Linked DNA regions of Homo sapiens. The protein of the gene in region 1 purifies or fractionates together with the protein of each later gene. This does not show direct contact. Each region holds a gene or a part of one and is shown in the gene's direction. Other genes may lie near its edges. The genes, in order: XKRX, FLVCR1, FAM234B, TRAFD1 and VPS13A.

Region 1 (4,180 bases):
AATCTTGCTCTGTTGCCCAGGCTGGAGTGCAGTGGCGTGATCTCAGCTCACTGCAACCTCTGCCGTCCGGGTTCAAGTTTTTCTCCTGCCTCAGCCTCCTGAGTAGCTGGGATTACAGTCACGCACCACCACGACCAGCTGATTTTTGTATTTTTAGTAGAGATGGGGTTTCACCACGTTGGCCAGGCTGGTTTCGAACTCCTGACCTCAAGTGATCTGCCTGCCTCAGCCTCCCAAAGTGCTGGGATTACAGGCGTGAACCACTGTGCCTGGCCTTCATCTATATTATTACCAGGAGGCAGATGTGTTCTCTTTTTCTCTGAGGTTTAGAATTATGCAAATGAAGATATGAAAACAAAAGCTCAGTGAGGTGGGGAGGATTACACTTAAGAATACAGGTAATTTTCAAAGCTCTTTAAGACACCCCTCTCAGTTTTTACTAACAGCTCTCTCTTGGCTCTTTGCCAGTCTGTTTAGAATTTGGCACCTCTTCATAACCTTTCAACCAAAGACCTGTAAGTTCATTCTAAAGCTCCTATCCTGGCCTCATTTTGCAAGTGGAGAAATCAAGGCATAAAATATGAGCTTTCAGTGTCTGTGGGCTGACCTTGAGTCTTGACCTTTATCCTGTTCTATCTTCCCTCCGCCGAAAACTCTGACCCTATTCCTCCCAGGTTCCCCCTTCATGATATTATCTGGAGGGCAATAGGACCTAGGGAGGTTCCACCCTGCGGCGGAGGGAGACACACCTGCCTAACAGCGTGGGTAGAGTGAGTGTTGAAGCAAGTCACTTAACTAGTTAGGGAGGGCGGGGTAGAAGTGGGGGCCTGCTGCTCCTAGGGAGGAGTAAAGCTGTGGCTCCTGCCTGGGTCTGGAGGTGGTGGTCAGAAGTGCTTCTGAAGAGCGGCCCAAGCCCCTTTTTGTCCCGCCACTCCACAACGAGCATCCCTCGGCTGGCCGCCTGCCCGGGAACTCTCCGGCTGGTTTTGTTTGGCCGCAGCCGTCCCGCCCATCTCGCCCGCCCCCGCCGTCCCGGTGCCTTAGTTTTTGAAGCTGCCGACCTCTCGCAGCTGGAATCGCAGACCAGGCAGGACCCTGGCAGCAGACGGCGTCCAAGAGTTTGGCGACCTCCGTCCAGCCAGGTTGGCGCCCCGCACATCGTGCCTCTCACTAGCAAAGTTTCTCCGAGGAGAAGCAGCCCCTCCAGCCTTTTCTTCATCCTGTAGAGCGAGCGCGCTCTGCTTCTGTCCCTCAACACTGCATTCGGAGACAGGGTGGTGACAATACTCCACTCCCGGGCCAGGCGGTCTTGGGGGCGGGGCTTGGGGGAATCCGAGGAGCTATCCTGAGAACCCTGGACTCGGCAAAGGTCCTGAGAGCGCGCAGGTGAGCGGGCCAGCTGATAGCTACAGCCTAGCAATAGCTAGGATACCTAGGCACTGAACTGAATCCCCTCTTCTGCCCTCCTTCTTCTGCGCCCGCTCTTCTGCCCTGGCTCAGCTCTCCGCTGACTTGAGAGGACACACTGGTCAGGACTCTTTGTGAGGAGCTGCTGAGTGTCGGTGCCCCCGACAGATCGGCTACACCCTGCCTGAGGGGCTGCGAAAGGAGCCGCCACGGAAGCCGCTGTTCTCATGACTCTTCACGTCCCTGGAGTTGGACTCTGGATGGGGCGCTGGGATGCTTGCTTTTGTCTTGTTCAAGTTTCACAGCAAGTATGTTGACGATTGGAATCGGGGCCAATCAAGAGTCAAGTTCAAAGTGGTACTCCTGGGCTTTCCATCCCAGACTCCAAGTCGAATCTGAGTCTAGAAGAGAGCGGTTTCTTGCTCTAACTAGTGAATCTCTGTTCCCAAACTGGACTTGACAGAGCTCTCCTCACCTATACTTGGACTGTAGCGGCCATAGGGTTCTCTTGGGGATGGGTGGGAGGGTGCTATGAACACAAGACCACAACATTCAGAAAGAACCTCGACAATGGACAGAGTTTATGAAATTCCTGAGGAGCCAAATGTGGATCCGGTTTCATCTCTGGAGGAAGATGTCATCCGTGGAGCCAACCCCCGATTTACTTTTCCATTTAGCATCCTTTTCTCCACCTTTTTGTACTGTGGGGAGGCTGCATCTGCTTTGTACATGGTTAGAATCTATCGAAAGAATAGTGAAACTTACTGGATGACATACACCTTTTCTTTCTTTATGTTTTCATCCATTATGGTCCAGTTGACCCTCATTTTTGTCCACAGAGATCTAGCCAAAGATAAACCGCTATCATTATTTATGCATCTAATCCTCTTGGGACCTGTTATCAGGTGAGCAACTTTTAAATCTTTTCCTTACCCCCCTAACCCCACCCCAGACTTGGGCAGAGAAAGATGAAAGATTTACAAGATGGATACTATGGCTCTAATCAATTCTCTCATTTCCTCCCACTCTCGGCTTCCCTGTCTACCATTCAGAAAACTTACCTGAAATCTTAAATGCCACCATGATGAACATGTGGTATGTACTTGTGTTCCAAAACAATGAACGATGCTATTTGGCCTGTGTAAACTAGAATGGGAACAACAAGACGTGATCACCCTGTGCATGAAGGCCATAGCTGCAGAGTGTGTAATTTTATTTAAAAAATTTTTTTTTTCTGAGACAAGGTCTTGCTCTGCCTCCCAGGCTACAGTGCAGTGGTGCGATCATGGCTCACTGCAGCCTTGATCTCCTGGGATCAAGCGAACCTCCCACCTCAGCCTCCAAGTAGCTGGGACCAAAGGAATGTGTCACCATGCCTGGTTAATTAAAAAAAAATTTTTATAGGCCGGGTGTGGTGGCTCATGCCTGTAATCCCAGCACTTTGGGAGGCTGAGGCGGGTGGATCACCTGAGGTCAGGAGTTCAAGACCAGCTGGCCAACATGGTGAAACCCCTGTCTCTACTAAAAATCAGCTGGGTGTGGTGGCGCATATCTGTAATCCCAGCTACTCTGGTGGCTGAGGCAGGAGAATCACTTGAACCCGGAAGGTAGAGGTTGCAGTGAGCCAAGATCGGTGCCACTGCACTCCAGCCTGGGCGATAGAGTGAGACTCCATCTCAAAAAAAAAAAAATTTTTTTTGTAGAGACGGGATCTCGTTATGTAGACTGGGCTCAAGTGATCTTCCTGCCTCAGCCTCCCAAAGTGAGCCACCGCGCCTGGTCTGAGTGTGTAATTTTGACTCTACCTTTTGGATGCTTTGTAAATTGGATAAAAGTTTCTTTACCCTGAGCTGCTTGGGCTGGTGCTACTGCCATTTTCAAATTTTCCAGAGTAATGTGACATCTGGAAACTATTTTAAACCATCTGTGGTAATCTGTACCCCAACCCAATATAGTTCAGTTCTCTGTCGGTTTATCAGTTTCCTATTTATCTCTTTGTATATTTCTGCAATAAAGATACGAAGTTGGGAGGGGGCAAAGGAAGGCAGTTCATCTCTCTATGTGGATGCAGTAGCACAATTTAATAGTATCAAGTATTTCCATTCAGATTGCCTTGAAGTGGAAAGAATGCACTTAATCCTAGCGAGATAGGCACCTGTGTCAACAGTCTCATCTGGATGCTATGGGGTTTTCAAGGTAGAGAGATGTTGCAAAACTTATGAGTTCAGGAGTAAGGAATGGACCAAGTTTGTCTTGATTGCAAGAGAGGCAGACAACTGCAGTCAGCCGAGGAATATGGGTCAGAGTGTTGCAATGGGAAGATACCTCATCATTAGACAACTAAAAAGTCTGTGAAACTAATTAAGGATGGAACTCACTCCTTTATAAAATTTCATATCTGTACACATGTATAATTTTTATTTGTCACTTATACCTCAATAAGGCCAAAAAAATTTTTTATCAATAAATTTTTAAGTGGGGAGGAATCGATTAGGCTCTATCAGAGAGAATATGGGATATCAATGGAAACAGTGGCCTGAAATTTGGAGTCTAGTCTTCCCCCTGTCATTGACTGGTTGTGTGTTCTTGGTAAAATCTCTGAAGATGGCTTCACAGGAAGGCATATAGAGTTCCCTCATCTGTAAAGCAAATGGGTTAGTCTAAATCATGGGTCTCAAACTCAAACACTTGCAGGGACCAGGCAGGTATCATAAATGAATGAAGCAGGCCTAGTATAAGAAAAAACAGTAGCCTTGTGTGAGATGATAAATGA
Region 2 (3,609 bases), on another chromosome or scaffold:
TCTATAATAACTTCAGATAGCCTACATGTCCCCATTTAGTGGAGACCTCTTGAATGCTATTTGAATTCTGCAGTATCATTTTTATGACCATTCTCCTTTGAGGAATACTATGCCCAGGTACATGCTCTATCAGTGTGCCGGGAGAGTGGATTCTTTTCTTCACTGCAGAGTCATCACACTGTTAGAATAGTCTGCTCTTTTACATGCTCAGGTAGGGAAAATAGGACCAAATATATTTCCACAGTGCCTACCACTGTGTCATGTTTACAGTGAGAGTTTAAATATTGTTGATGTCCTGACTCTGTGAGCTCATAGGGAGTATCTTCATAGTAATGACATTTGATCAGCCATAAAATTTACATTATGTTCATATGCACCCAAAAAAGCTAGTCAGGTAATGAATACCCTTGAAGTGAATAGCAATTTTGATTTAGGCAGTGTGTTAGGCCATCCTTGCATTGCTATAAAGAAATATTTAGGCTGGGCGTGGTGGCTCACGCCTGTAATCCCAGCACTTTGGGAGGCTGAAGCGTGTGGATCACCTGAGGTCAGGAGTTCAAGACCAGCCTGGCCAACATGGTAAAACCCCATCTCTACTAAAAAAAAAAAAAAAAAAAAAAAAAAAAAAAAAGGCCAGGCGCAGTGCTGTGGCTCATGCCTGTAATCTCAGCACTTTGGGAGGCCAAGGCAGGTGGATCACAAAGTCAGGAGTTCAAAACCAGCCTGGCCAAGATGGTGAAACCCCATCTCTACTAAAAATACAAAAATTAGCGCAGTGGCAGGCGCCTGTAATCCCAGCTACTCAGGAGGCTGAGGCAGGAGAATCGCTTGAATGCGAATGGCAGAGGTTGCAGTGAGCGAAAATCACACTACTGCACTCCAGCCTGGGAGATAAAGTGAGACTGTCTCAAATAAATAAATAAATAAATAAATAAATAAATAAATAAATAAATAAAACCTGAGGTTGAGCACGATGGCTCACACCTATAGTCCCAGCACTTTGGGAGGCTGAGGTGGGTGGATCATTTGAGGCCAGGAGTTGAAGACCAGTCTGGCCAACATGGCAAAACCCCATCTCTACTAAAAATACATACACACACACACACACACACAAATTAGCCGGGCATGGTGGCACACGCCTGTAGTCCCAGCTTCTTGGGAAGCTGAGGCATGAGAATTGCCTGAACCTGGAAGGCGGAGGCTACAGTGAGCTGAGATTGCGCCACTGCACTCCAGCCTGGGTGACAGAGCGAGACTCTGTTTCAGGAAAAAAAGAACAGAAATACCTGAGACTGGGTAATTTATAAATAAAAGAGGTTTAAGTGGCTCACAGTTCTGCAGGCTGTGTAAGCATGGCACCAGTGTCTGCTCGGCTTCTGGGGAGCCCTCAGGGAGCTTTACTCATGGTGAAAGGCTAAGTGGGAGCAGAGATGTCACATGGCGAAGCAGGAGCAAGAGAGCAGGGAGGTGCCACACACCTTCAAACAACCAGATTTTGTGAAAACTCACTCATTACTGCAAGGACAGCACCAAGCCATGAGGGATCCACCCGCAGGACCCAAACACCTTCTATTAGGGCCAACCTTCAACATTGGGGATTACATTTCAATGTGAGATTGGAGGGACAAGTATCCCAACTATATCAGGCAGAATATATGCATTGATATATATTGAAATTATAACATTCTCTATAATCAAGTGACTGTAAATTATGTCGAATCTGACCCTGGGGAATGTGTTATCTAAAGAATTTGACTAAGAATCAGGAACTCTGTGTCCATGTCCTGGATGTATTTCTGTATGTTCCTATAACTCTGGACAAATCATTAAACCTCTCTGGGCAGCGTTTTCCTCATCCATGAAATGAATGTGTTCAATTTGATCTCAAAGATCTTTCCAAAATATTAAATGCCATTAATCATGGAATAGACCAAATTATTGTATCACAGGAACTTGAATCCAGCCAGAGAAAAATTCCCTGGACAATTGGATAAACAAATGTGATTGCTACCTTATGGATACAACGGACTTTTACATTTCTTTTTAGCCTTTTTAGTCAGTTGAGGGTAACTCAAGCAGAGTATGTCCAATCATTAGCTTCCTTTGATATTTACATTACAGGTAAAAACGGCCAAAAATATATTTTAAGGTCTCTCCCCAAATGTTTTTATTTTTAAACTATCAATGTTGTTTAAAATAATCATGTACTTGTTGAGTTCCTGAGGTTTGGAACAAATTACACATAAAATTTAGAATACTTTATTTCTGAAAAGCATATACATATATGTTATGTTTATTTTTCCTTGTTGATTAGAAAGGTGATGGAATATGTGACAATGCAAAATGAATTGATAATTTTTCTGTATTTTGAGTGAAAGTTGTCTGTAATATGTCAAGCAAGAATGTTATAATTCTACAGTAATGTGTGACTTCATGACAGAGCTACATTCTGAGAAATTTGTCATTAGGTGATTTCATCATTGTGTGAACATCATGAAGTGTACTTACACAAACCTAGGTGGTAGAGCCTACTGCACACCTGGGCTAGATGGCAAAGTCTGTCGCTTCTGGGCTACAGACCTGTACAGCATGGTACTGTATTGAATACTGTAGGCAACTGTAACACAATGGTATCTGTGTAATCTAAACATAGAACAGATAATACATTGTGCTACAATGTAACAATGGCTGTGGCATCACTAGGTGATAGGAATTTTTCAGTTCCATTATAATCTTATAGGATCTCTGTCATATGTGGTCAATTGTTGATCGAAACATGACTGTATGTCGTATTTTCAGAAAATGGAATAGGTAATCATCACTTGTGTGAATTTTAATCAAATGACTTAGGAAAGAAACTGGATGTTTCAAAAGCTGTTGCATTTATTACAAATGTCACAAATACAGCTCTTGCCTTTTGAGAATGTTGGAGAGATGTCTTTAAAAAATATGTTTGTGTGTAAAAATGTGTCTGTATGCAATAGCTAGAAAAATGCCTGTGTCTTAAGTCATTACTCATGTTCTAATTTTTGTTCTTTGTACTATTTATCTGTATGCTTGTTCTTCAGTATTTCAGACTCAAAATAAATTTATTTTTTTATGTTAATTTTCTGTGACTTTTTGAAAAATTCTGATGCTTAGGTACACATGGGGAGTTTAAAGGGATTATAAAATTTCAGAATGGGCAAAGAGGGAATGAGGTAGTGCATGGAACATAAAATGAGGAAACAAAGTCTACCAGGGTCAGGGCTAAAATAGATACTAAAATATTTTATTCCTTTAAAAGTAACTTTAGAGAGTGATGTTAGCAAGATGGCAGAATAGGAGCTTTATATCATCATTCTTCCACAGAAGCATTGATTTTTACCAGTACTTTCAGATGGTAGTTCTTTTGTAGGAATCCAGAAGTCCTACGTGGAAGTTCCAGCACACCATTGGAGCAGAAATATCTGAGAATAAATGCATTAAAGAAAAGGAAGAAGAAGATTTTCACTTTATCTGCATCACTCTTTGAAGTTGGCACAGCTTAGTGGCAAGAGAGACTCCCCTCAGTCCACAATTTCTCCCATGGGAGAAGGTGATAGCATAGTGAGAGTGCTCAGCCCCTAG
Region 3 (3,520 bases), on another chromosome or scaffold:
TTCTGCCGTGGTTCCAGCTGGTCCCTCCATTTGGGGTCCTTGCCTTCCCGCAACAATCTGGTCTCCATATAGTGTTTTATTCTTTCATTTTATTAATTGAACAAACTGAGATATAATGTATGAAATGACATCACCAAGGCCATAGTGACCCAGAGGTAGACACTAGCATTAATAATTATTCTTTTCCCCTTTTTAATTAGCTGGGTTTTGTGGTCTTTTTTATATTTCTTCTGAACAAAAGATTTAATGATAGAGTTTACATTAGTGATAGATTACTGCATAAAGTCTCCCCAAAAGAAACATTTTCTTGGTTGTTACTTGGTGGTAACATGAAATAAAGGCATAAAATCATTCAGTCATTGGCAGTGAGGCCAAGGGGTGGGTGGCTTGGGAGGAGGTGTACCTAGGCTCTTCTGTAATTTCTCTCTCAGCTATCCCAAATCAACACTGCAAGCTAAGTAAAAACAAAGTGCTTGCCATGCAAAGCACCTTCAAGACAAGTCCCCTACCTCTGTGTACTGGCTAGATCACCACCCCTCCCAGAATACTTGCTCAGAAGAGCAGTTTTTGGGGTAAACACTGTTTACTAAAAGATAGACTGAAAGGGCATTCAAATCACAGGATGGTTCTTAGAAGTGAGATTTCAATACATCTTCAGATGAACATTCAGTGTTCAACTTTCTAAGTTGTTTCCATAGAAACAGTTGGGAAGCCACAGATATTGGGCTGTGAGAAGCAGCGTATGGAGAAGAATTGTTCTAAAAGTTTACCAGGAAAGATTAGGATGTCACAGATCTAAGAAGATCTGAGGCAATATGCACATTAGGCACATGGAGAGTTGATGTGGAGCCATGATCTTTTTCTTGAGTGAGATTCAAACACATTAAGAGAGCTTTCTTTTTAAACTAAAGGCATTTTAAATTTGCTAACTTCTGCCTCCTTTTCCATTGTCTTAAACTCATGCAGGCAGTGATCCTGGAGCACTGTGCTTTTGTTTTTCCTTCCATTCCTAACCCCTGCTTCACTGGCTTCTGTTTTACAGATAGCCACCAAGGTTCAAACTTGATGTAAACCTGGATTTTTTTGTTTTAGTTTTCCGTGTTCTTCTGGGTATTTACAGTTGCCATATATTTGGTGAGGGTGTCTTCTCCCCAGTTCCCCTTGACTCTCTGTTTTTCTGTATTTTCAGGGAAGAAGAGCCCAGACCTAGGGGAGTATGATCCACTTACCCAGGCTGACAGTGATGAGAGCGAAGACGATCTGGTGCTTAACCTGCAGAAGAATGGAGGGGTCAAAAATGGGAAGAGTCCTTTGGGAGAAGCGCCAGAACCCGACTCAGATGCTGAGGTTGCAGAGGCTGCAAAGCCACATCTTTCAGAAGTCACCACGGAGGGCTACCCCTCAGAACCCCTTGGGGGCCTGGAACAGAAGGCGGCCTCCTCCCTGGTGTCATATGTGCGCACGTCTGTCTTCCTGCTGACTTTGGGGATCTCGATGATCCTGGTGCTCCTGTGTGCTTTCCTGATCCCCTGTCCTCCCAGAGATCTGCACAGCACCTGGAGCCGCCACTTGGGCTCCCAGGGAGGTGAGCTGCAGAATCTTCAGCCCTAATCCTGTGAAACTTCATGCTATGTCTGATTACATTTAAATTTTCCTCCAAATCTTAAAACTTAATATGTGTCATGCGGCATTCCCCACCCTGCCGTCCCCACTGTGTGGAGGTGGCAAGGAGATTAAGATTTGAAAGAAAACAAACACCTCCAAAAACCTGGGAATCATTGCTCTGTTGTGTCTGTTGGCATTGGTCTTTATTAGATCCAGAGAGGACAGGGCTGGTTTGCTGGATTCCTGCTGTGGAGCCAGCACTGTATCAGGGGAATGCAAAGCTGTAGGAAGGGCTATTTACAGAGAAAAGCAAGGTTCAAGGCCTGGTTGCACCAGGGATAGAGCTCTTGCAGAACCCTTTGACATTCTTTGATGATAGAGGTCTGATCTAATTTAAATTATAAAATAATTTCATTTCCTGTAAAAGATAGTTGCTATCTTTTCTTTCTTGCTCCTCATGGTTAGGGCGGTGCTGTCTGAGTAATTCCAGCTATTCTGTCTCCTTTTTGGAGTAGGCTTCTTTAAAACCTCTTGCTCTGGAATGGGACTTACATCTCACCTGTGTTGAGTAGTCCTGTCTCTTGTGAACTGGATTAAGCTATCCTCAGACCCCTGGCATCCTCTTGATCTAGAAATGTTTATCTCTGCCACTTCTCTGATCCCAGTTGAATTAGCTTCTGATGAGTTCTGTGTTCTCATCTTTAGTTTCTCTGAAGGCAAGTTTCATTTACATATATTTATATACAGTTTAAAGGTAACAAATTGTTGGTGTGTCTACCACCCAGCTTTAGAAATAGAACATCATTGAGACCTTCACAATCTCTTGTGTGTCCCTCCTGACCACATCCTCCTCTGCCCAGCAAAGGCCTCTGCTATCCTGAATTTTGTGTTGATTATTCCTTTTTCTGTAAAGTTTTACCATGTCAATATGTACCCCTAAACTGTATATTCATTACTTTTGCTGGTTTTTAAATTTTACATGAATTTAATCATGCAGTCTTCTGTGAACTGCTTTTTTTTTTTTTTTTTGCGACAGAGTCTTGCTCTGTCACCCAGGCTGGGGTGCAGTGGCATGATCTCGGCTTACTGCAGGCTTCACCTCCCGCGTTCAGGTGATTTTTGTGCCTTAGCCTCCCGTGTAGCTGGGATTGCAGGAGCTCGCCACCATGCCTGGCTAATTTTTGTATTTTCAGTAGAGACGGGGTTTTGCCATTTTGGCCAGGCTGATCTTGAACTCCTGACCTCAGGTGATCCACCCACCTCGGCCTCCCAAAGTGCTGGGATTATAGTTGTGAGCCACTGCACCCAGCCTGTGACCTGCTTCTTTGTGCCACTTAATTTTTTGAAAACAATTTATTGAGATTCATCTATATTGATGCATTATACCTGGAGTTTATTCATTTTCACTACTGTCTGATTTTTCCATGGTATGAATATCTCATGATTTATCCATTTTTCTGTTGATGAACCTTTAAGTAATGCTTCCAGTCTTTTTTTTTTTAAATAAATAAATGATGCTGCTAAGAACATTTTTGTATATGTTTCCTATTGCAGTGTATAAGAATTTATCTAAGGCATAAACCTAGGAGTAAAATTGCTGGATCATACCATAGGGTGTGTGCATGTTCATTATTAGCAGTTTATGTTAAATTATTTTCCAACATGGTTGTACCGATTTACATTTCCACTAGCAATGTGTGAATTCTCTCCAAATTTGGTGGGCATCCTCTGAGTCCACACTTTTGGGTGGTGGGGGGATGGAAGTCCAGACTCCTCACTAGGCCTCTGCTGACACCACCCCCGTGGAGAGGAGGGAGAGGGCTGCCTTGTTGATGCTAGTTGGGGTGGAACTCCTTTGGTCCTGCTAGATGAGGATGACAGTCCTTGCCCCCACCTGGCTTTCTCTGACATGACC
Region 4 (2,293 bases), on another chromosome or scaffold:
CCTGGATGATACTAAGCAGGAAACAGCTAATGGGCCCACCTCCTGTCTGCCTCCCAGCCGACCCATTAACAATATGACAGCTACCTATAACCAGCTATCGAGATCAACATCAGGCCCCAGACCTGGGTGCCAGCCCAGCTCTCCTTGTGTGCCGAAGCTCAGCAACTCAGACAGCCAGGACATCCAGGGGCGGAATCGAGACAGCCAGAATGGGGCCATAGCCCCTGGGCACGTTTCAGTGATTCGCCCTCCTCAAAATCTCTACCCAGAAAACATTGTGCCCTCTTTCTCCCCTGGGCCTTCAGGGAGATACGGAGCTAGGTAAGAATCAGTAGCCCAGGAATGGGGCTTGGGAGTAGCTGAAGCGAACATGGGCAAAGGCCTGGTTACCCTTGCCAGGCCTGGGGTAAGACTGAGGTACTTGCATGGTAAGGGGAGGAGTATGGATTTTCCCTGTATTGTCACCTGACTCCAAAAAAATTATTTTGTGGCCTATGGGTTTTTTGGGGTTTGTCTGCTAGCATAGGACTGCTTCCTGTTCCCTCTGAGTTTGTTGACCTTTGCTCAGGGACACTTCAGGAGCTAGTTTCTAATTGTTTTCTTTCAGTGGTAGGAGTGAAGGTGGCAGGAATTCCCGGGTCACCCCTGCAGCTGCCAACTACCGCAGCAGAACTGCAAAGGTAAGGTGGGCTCCAGCCCATGATGCTCAGTGGGGGACTCAGACATGGTGGGGCTTGTGTGGCTCCTGAAGTTGTAGAAGTTGTTGGGACCAGGCTGGTTGTGGTTCAAAGATTGTTCCTTTGGCTTTTGAGAAGGAGGTTTCTAAGGAAGCGGGACATTTTCGGGGATCCAGGGGAGGAGTAATGCTTTTTCACTTTTTATGTAAAGCTTCGTTTGTGTTGTGTTGTTCACCAGGCAAAGCCTTCCAAGCAACAGGGAGCTGGGGATGCAGAAGAGGAAGAGGAGGAGTAATGGTGTCTCCAGAGACTTTACATCGGTTCCTGTCTTCTGTGCACAGCAGCACTTGCCGCTGTGCAGGCCCACCTCTTTGGCTCTTTGGGTGGGAGAGTTTTTCCAGATTTTAGATTTTTCTAGGTTATGGCCATTTTGTGTCTTTTGAGGTTGTGCTGTGGGGGTTTGGGTTTGAGGGAAGGGAGCAGGGTGGCGGTTGAGGAACGCTTCAGCCTTAGCTGCTACCTTTCGGCAGCAGTGAAATACAAGCTGCAGCCTCGGCTGCCAGGGCTCCCTTTTGACTTATTGTCGCCACTGCCCCTTGGTGCTGTGTGGTCCCAGTGGAAGGAGGGGAAGATTTTGGAAACCTGGTAGCCACCAGTAAGGTGATTCTCTGCCCTGTTGGGGCCTAAATTTGGGGGCTTTTGGGCAACCTCTCCGTGTACTGCGTCTGTCCACACTCGATTGGGCCCCAGGTGTGTATGAGGCGCTCTGGTAAGGTGCTCAGGCCAGTTGCAATGTCTGTCAGTAACGAGGCTTTTGATGTGTTGAGCTGGAGGTGAGTGGACCGGGGGCTGTGTTTTAAGCTGCTTCCTTGGCATTTGGCATCACTGCCTTCTGTTCCCGGGGGAGCATGGATCTTTTGTCCTCACTGCTTTCTAATGGGGAGGGCTGAGGGCTCCCTGTCCCCACAGCAGGTATGTTGGGCTCTGCCCCAGCCCCACACTTGCTCTGAAAACCAAGTGTCAGAGCCCCTTCCCCTTGTTTTTATTTTACTGTTATAATAATTATTAACTTCCTTGTAATAGAAATAAAGTTTGTACTTGGAGTTCAGCTCAGTCTTGTGGTTCCTTCTCCTGTGTGCTTTAGAGACTGCAGGGAGGGCAGGGTAGGCTGGAGTCAGCCCTGGGGTTGGAGGAGGTGAGCAGGGCTGGGCTTTCTCCGGCACTCCAGTAACCCTCGCAGCTCCACCATGAGTCCCTTCTTGGAGTACACAGACATTGAACGTGTAGTGTTTTAAATTGGACTTCTGAGAAAACTGACAGGCTTGCTGCAGCTCCGGTGATGACTGGGGCTAGAAGGGGTGCCTCTGACTGAATAGAGAAAAGCAGATTCTTCAAAAGCCTTCATCCTGAGAGGAGTTGAGCCCTAGCAGGATTAGCTGTTACCCCTCAGTGCCTCCGTCTGCATAGGACCACTGAGCACCGTAGGTCATTTTGAGTTCCTTTGTTCTTCCAACAACCTGTTGGGGTGGGAAAGGTGGGAGGAACTGCCCTATTTCATAGATGGAACACTAGACACGGGAACCATGCGGCCAGTTCTTTGCAGAGGCAGGTCTCTG
Region 5 (3,520 bases), on another chromosome or scaffold:
AATATGTGCATATAATGCCTTGATTCAAAATTCAAATGTAGAAAACAAATTTTGAATTCTTCTGATTAGTAGAAAAATTTTAAAAATGTCTCTTGGTTTTAGTTTTTTAAAGTAAAATTTGAATACTGAATTATGTGCCAGTTACTGTAATATGCATTTTACATGTGCTATTTTACTTAATCTCCAAACATACTCAGTGATTAGTTCTATTTTTCCTTGGAACAGAACAGAAGTAGGAACAGAAGCATCAAGAGGAAATAGAAACACCAAGTGTTCAATTAATATTCCCAAATTATTATGGAAAGAGTCCTAAGCCAGAAGTTACTGAGTTTTACATCTGAATTTTCTAATATTTTATTTTCTTGAATGTCATTTTACTATACCTGTTTAATAATTCTATTAAATCTATTTCAAGGGTATTTTAATGAGCTACTTTTCATGATATTTTCTTTTATTAAATAACTTTAATTTTTTCAAGGAGCAACTGTGGTGACAGCTGCTGTGGTAGAAGTACATTCACGTGCCTTACTAGTTAAGACAACACTAAACATAAGCTTCAAAACTGATGATCTCACCATGGTGCTGTATAGTCCAGGTCCTAAACAGGTAAGTCCAGGAAGAAAAGAAAATGTATTTTCACATGTGAAATTTGCATAGGTTGATGTTTTTAAAGTAACAAATGTTAATATTTAACATTTATTTTGTAGTATCTGTCCCTCTGAGAAAAATGATCTTTTTACTTTAATAATAATTATAACTATTTCCCTTTTAAATGAGTTATCTATCATATAGCTAATGTGAAAAATAAATTGTAAAATTAAAGTGATATGTATATATTTTTAGCCTTTCATTAGAGCCCTTCGGAGACAGAATTTTGATGTTTGTTATAAGCAGAGGCAATAATTTGTAGTAGTTCATATCATGAAATACACTTTAGACTTGTGTTTCTTTGTAATTTTGTGTTGGTTTCTCCTTTCATAGGCTTCCTTTACAGATGTTCGTGATCCTTCTCTGAAACTTGCTGAATTTAAATTGGAGAATATTATAAGTACTTTAAAAATGTATACAGATGGCTCAACATTTTCTTCCTTCTCATTAAAAAACTGTATTTTAGATGATAAAAGACCTCATGTCAAGAAAGCAACTCCTCGGTATGTATTGTAATGATGTTCTAAGGTTTTACTTGAGAAATCGTTGATATATTTTACAGAATTCATCTCCAGAATTGCACGTTCATTTTCTGAGTGCATCCTAGGTTCTTTAAAGCTTCAATTCAGTCAGCTCGTAGTACTCGGTTAACATTTAAAATGTCCTGGTTCTGTTATGTACTATTCTTACTGGATAATTGATAGATTGGTTGAGTAACTAGAAATAATCAGTGCAATTAAATTGGTTTTTACATTCTTTAAATTACATTCTCTAATATAAATCTAATATAAGTTATTGTTAATCCATGCTAATTGCAATGGGAAGTACATAAAAAATTGAAAAGAAAAAATATCCTGAGATTCAAACTCTTATAATTTATTGAACATACACTTCCTCATTTATGATACATTTGTGTTCCAGAAGTTTGTAAGTTTGTTATTTGGAACACTTTATGGATCTTCCCAAGAGACATGACTTCAGAATGCTTTTTTTTGTCAGTAAAAGAGATAAGAGGTCTTTGAGTTTTACTCATATGTTTGATTACTTCTAAGTTACTCATACATAGGAATTGTTGTTATTGTGTTTTCCAGAATGATAGGACTGACAGTTGGTTTTGACAAAAAAGACATGATGGATATAAAGTACAGGAAAGTCAGAGATGGTTGTGTGACTGATGCGGTCTTTCAAGAAATGTATATTTGTGCAAGCGTAGAATTTCTGCAGACTGTTGCAAATGTCTTTCTTGAGGCCTACACCACAGGCACTGCTGTAGAAACCAGTGTGCAAACATGGACTGCTAAGGAAGAAGGTTAGTTATTGGCTAAAATATTTAATATTTGTTTTATTGAAGTGCTACAACAGGACTTAACCTTGATTAGCCTTTTAGATCATCAAAGTAAATGCTTTAAGAAATTAAAATTTTATTTTTCAGAGTAGAAGGAAAACCTTAATGTGTTTTCTTGGAGGATGTATAGTTTGCATTTTTTAAAGGTGTCAGTATATATTGCATTTAAAAATTATGAAACCTATGTTAGAATAAGTAATTGTACTTCTCTTCAGGCAGTAATTTGAAGGAATTTGTCTAGTGGAAAAAAACAAGCAGAGCAAATAATGAACCAACCATACCTTTTCACAATTAAGATAATATTTCAATTTAAAGCACTCATTTATTTTTGTTGTATTTATTCCTAGCTTTTAACGTACGGTTTCTCTATTATCTTTTTATAATATGTGATTTACTGTGGTATAGTAGAAAGAGTATCAAGTTGAGAGTTAGAAACTAGATTAGTTTCTAGGCTTTCCAATTAAATAGTGGAGATTTCCCCTCATTTAAAAATGTTCTTATGCCTATAGCTTCTTCAAGTCTTTACTAAGGGTTGTAGTTGATTCCTTTGGGATCTAAGATTCTTTTGTTTTACTTTTTACTATTATTTCATTTTAATATTTTCTTATAAATAATAAATTATTCATAATATATAGCAAATATTTTAATCTATTTTTATTTGTTTTAGTACCTACACAGGAATCAGTGAAGTGGGAAATTAATGTTATTATTAAAAATCCTGAAATTGTGTTTGTAGCTGACATGACAAAAAATGATGCTCCTGCTTTAGTCATTACAACACAATGTGAAATTTGCTATAAAGGTAACCTTGAAAATAGTACAATGACTGCTGCCATTAAAGATCTCCAAGTGAGAGCCTGCCCGTTTCTTCCAGTCAAGAGAAAAGGCAAAATCACTACTGTGAGTTAACTATTTGATCATCTGCTTAATTGTAACTATTTTGGATGTAGTGTATACCATTTTAGGAAACAAAAACTACCTACATGCTTTCCAACCTTGCTCTGTAAAATGTCTTTCTCTCTGCTTAGAGAGCTTAATTTAGAATATTATTTACCAGCTTTGAAACTCTTTCATTCTTCCAGATGCTGCTCATTATTGTTAGTATTTGTGGGAATATTGTCACTAAGAAGTTGGGTTCATCTTGACAGTTTTCAGTTAAGATCTACTTTGACTTTCTAACCATGTCAATTCCAAATTGCTCTTTGGACTTTTAAGACTTTCTGCCAGTTGTTTGCTGTGTTGTTTCAATTTTATTGTTTCAACTTTTTTCTCCCGTTTGGATGTTTTTGCTCAAATAATGAGTTTTTCCTTGTCTCCATGTAACTTCATTTGAACCTTCAGCCATTTGCTTTGACATACTTCACATTGATATTTTACTCTCTAGTAACCTCTTGGCCTTCCTCCTCTTCATAACTCTACTTAAAATTCATTCCTTTACAGACATCTTTTCAAGTTAACTGGCTGACTTCCAGCGAATACTTACAAAAATATTTGAGCTTCTGAAGGAGTAATAGAAGCATAAGTTTT

Evidence for each region.
Region 2: the proteins of XKRX (region 1) and FLVCR1 purify together in Homo sapiens (affinity purification with mass spectrometry; 2 studies listed by BioGRID and IntAct, with this or other methods). This does not show direct contact.
Region 3: the proteins of XKRX (region 1) and FAM234B purify together in Homo sapiens (affinity purification with mass spectrometry; 2 studies listed by BioGRID and IntAct, with this or other methods). This does not show direct contact.
Region 4: the proteins of XKRX (region 1) and TRAFD1 purify together in Homo sapiens (affinity purification with mass spectrometry; 2 studies listed by BioGRID and IntAct, with this or other methods). This does not show direct contact.
Region 5: the proteins of XKRX (region 1) and VPS13A purify together in Homo sapiens (affinity purification with mass spectrometry; 2 studies listed by BioGRID and IntAct, with this or other methods). This does not show direct contact.

Annotation. Positions count from the first base shown.
Region 1 is NC_000023.11:100,926,102-100,930,281, reverse strand, and holds the start of XKRX (XK-related protein 2), read left to right. Parts: upstream 1-1,364; 5' UTR 1,365-1,938; coding exon of another isoform or gene 1,939-1,977; coding exon 1,978-2,312; intron 2,313-4,180.
Region 2 is NC_000001.11:212,896,258-212,899,866, forward strand, and holds the end of FLVCR1 (choline/ethanolamine transporter FLVCR1), read left to right. Parts: 3' UTR 1-3,106; downstream 3,107-3,609.
Region 3 is NC_000012.12:13,054,362-13,057,881, forward strand, and holds part of FAM234B (protein FAM234B), read left to right. Parts: intron 1-1,189; coding exon 1,190-1,585; intron 1,586-3,520.
Region 4 is NC_000012.12:112,151,820-112,154,112, forward strand, and holds the end of TRAFD1 (TRAF-type zinc finger domain-containing protein 1), read left to right. Parts: coding exon 1-321; intron 322-607; coding exon 608-680; intron 681-915; coding exon 916-972; 3' UTR 973-1,785; downstream 1,786-2,293. UniProt on the Homo sapiens protein: Negative feedback regulator that controls excessive innate immune responses. Regulates both Toll-like receptor 4 (TLR4) and DDX58/RIG1-like helicases (RLH) pathways.
Region 5 is NC_000009.12:77,313,514-77,317,033, forward strand, and holds part of VPS13A (intermembrane lipid transfer protein VPS13A), read left to right. Parts: intron 1-478; coding exon 479-606; intron 607-981; coding exon 982-1,151; intron 1,152-1,739; coding exon 1,740-1,957; intron 1,958-2,660; coding exon 2,661-2,893; intron 2,894-3,520. UniProt on the Homo sapiens protein: Mediates the transfer of lipids between membranes at organelle contact sites. Binds phospholipids. Required for the formation or stabilization of ER-mitochondria contact sites which enable transfer of lipids between the ER and mitochondria.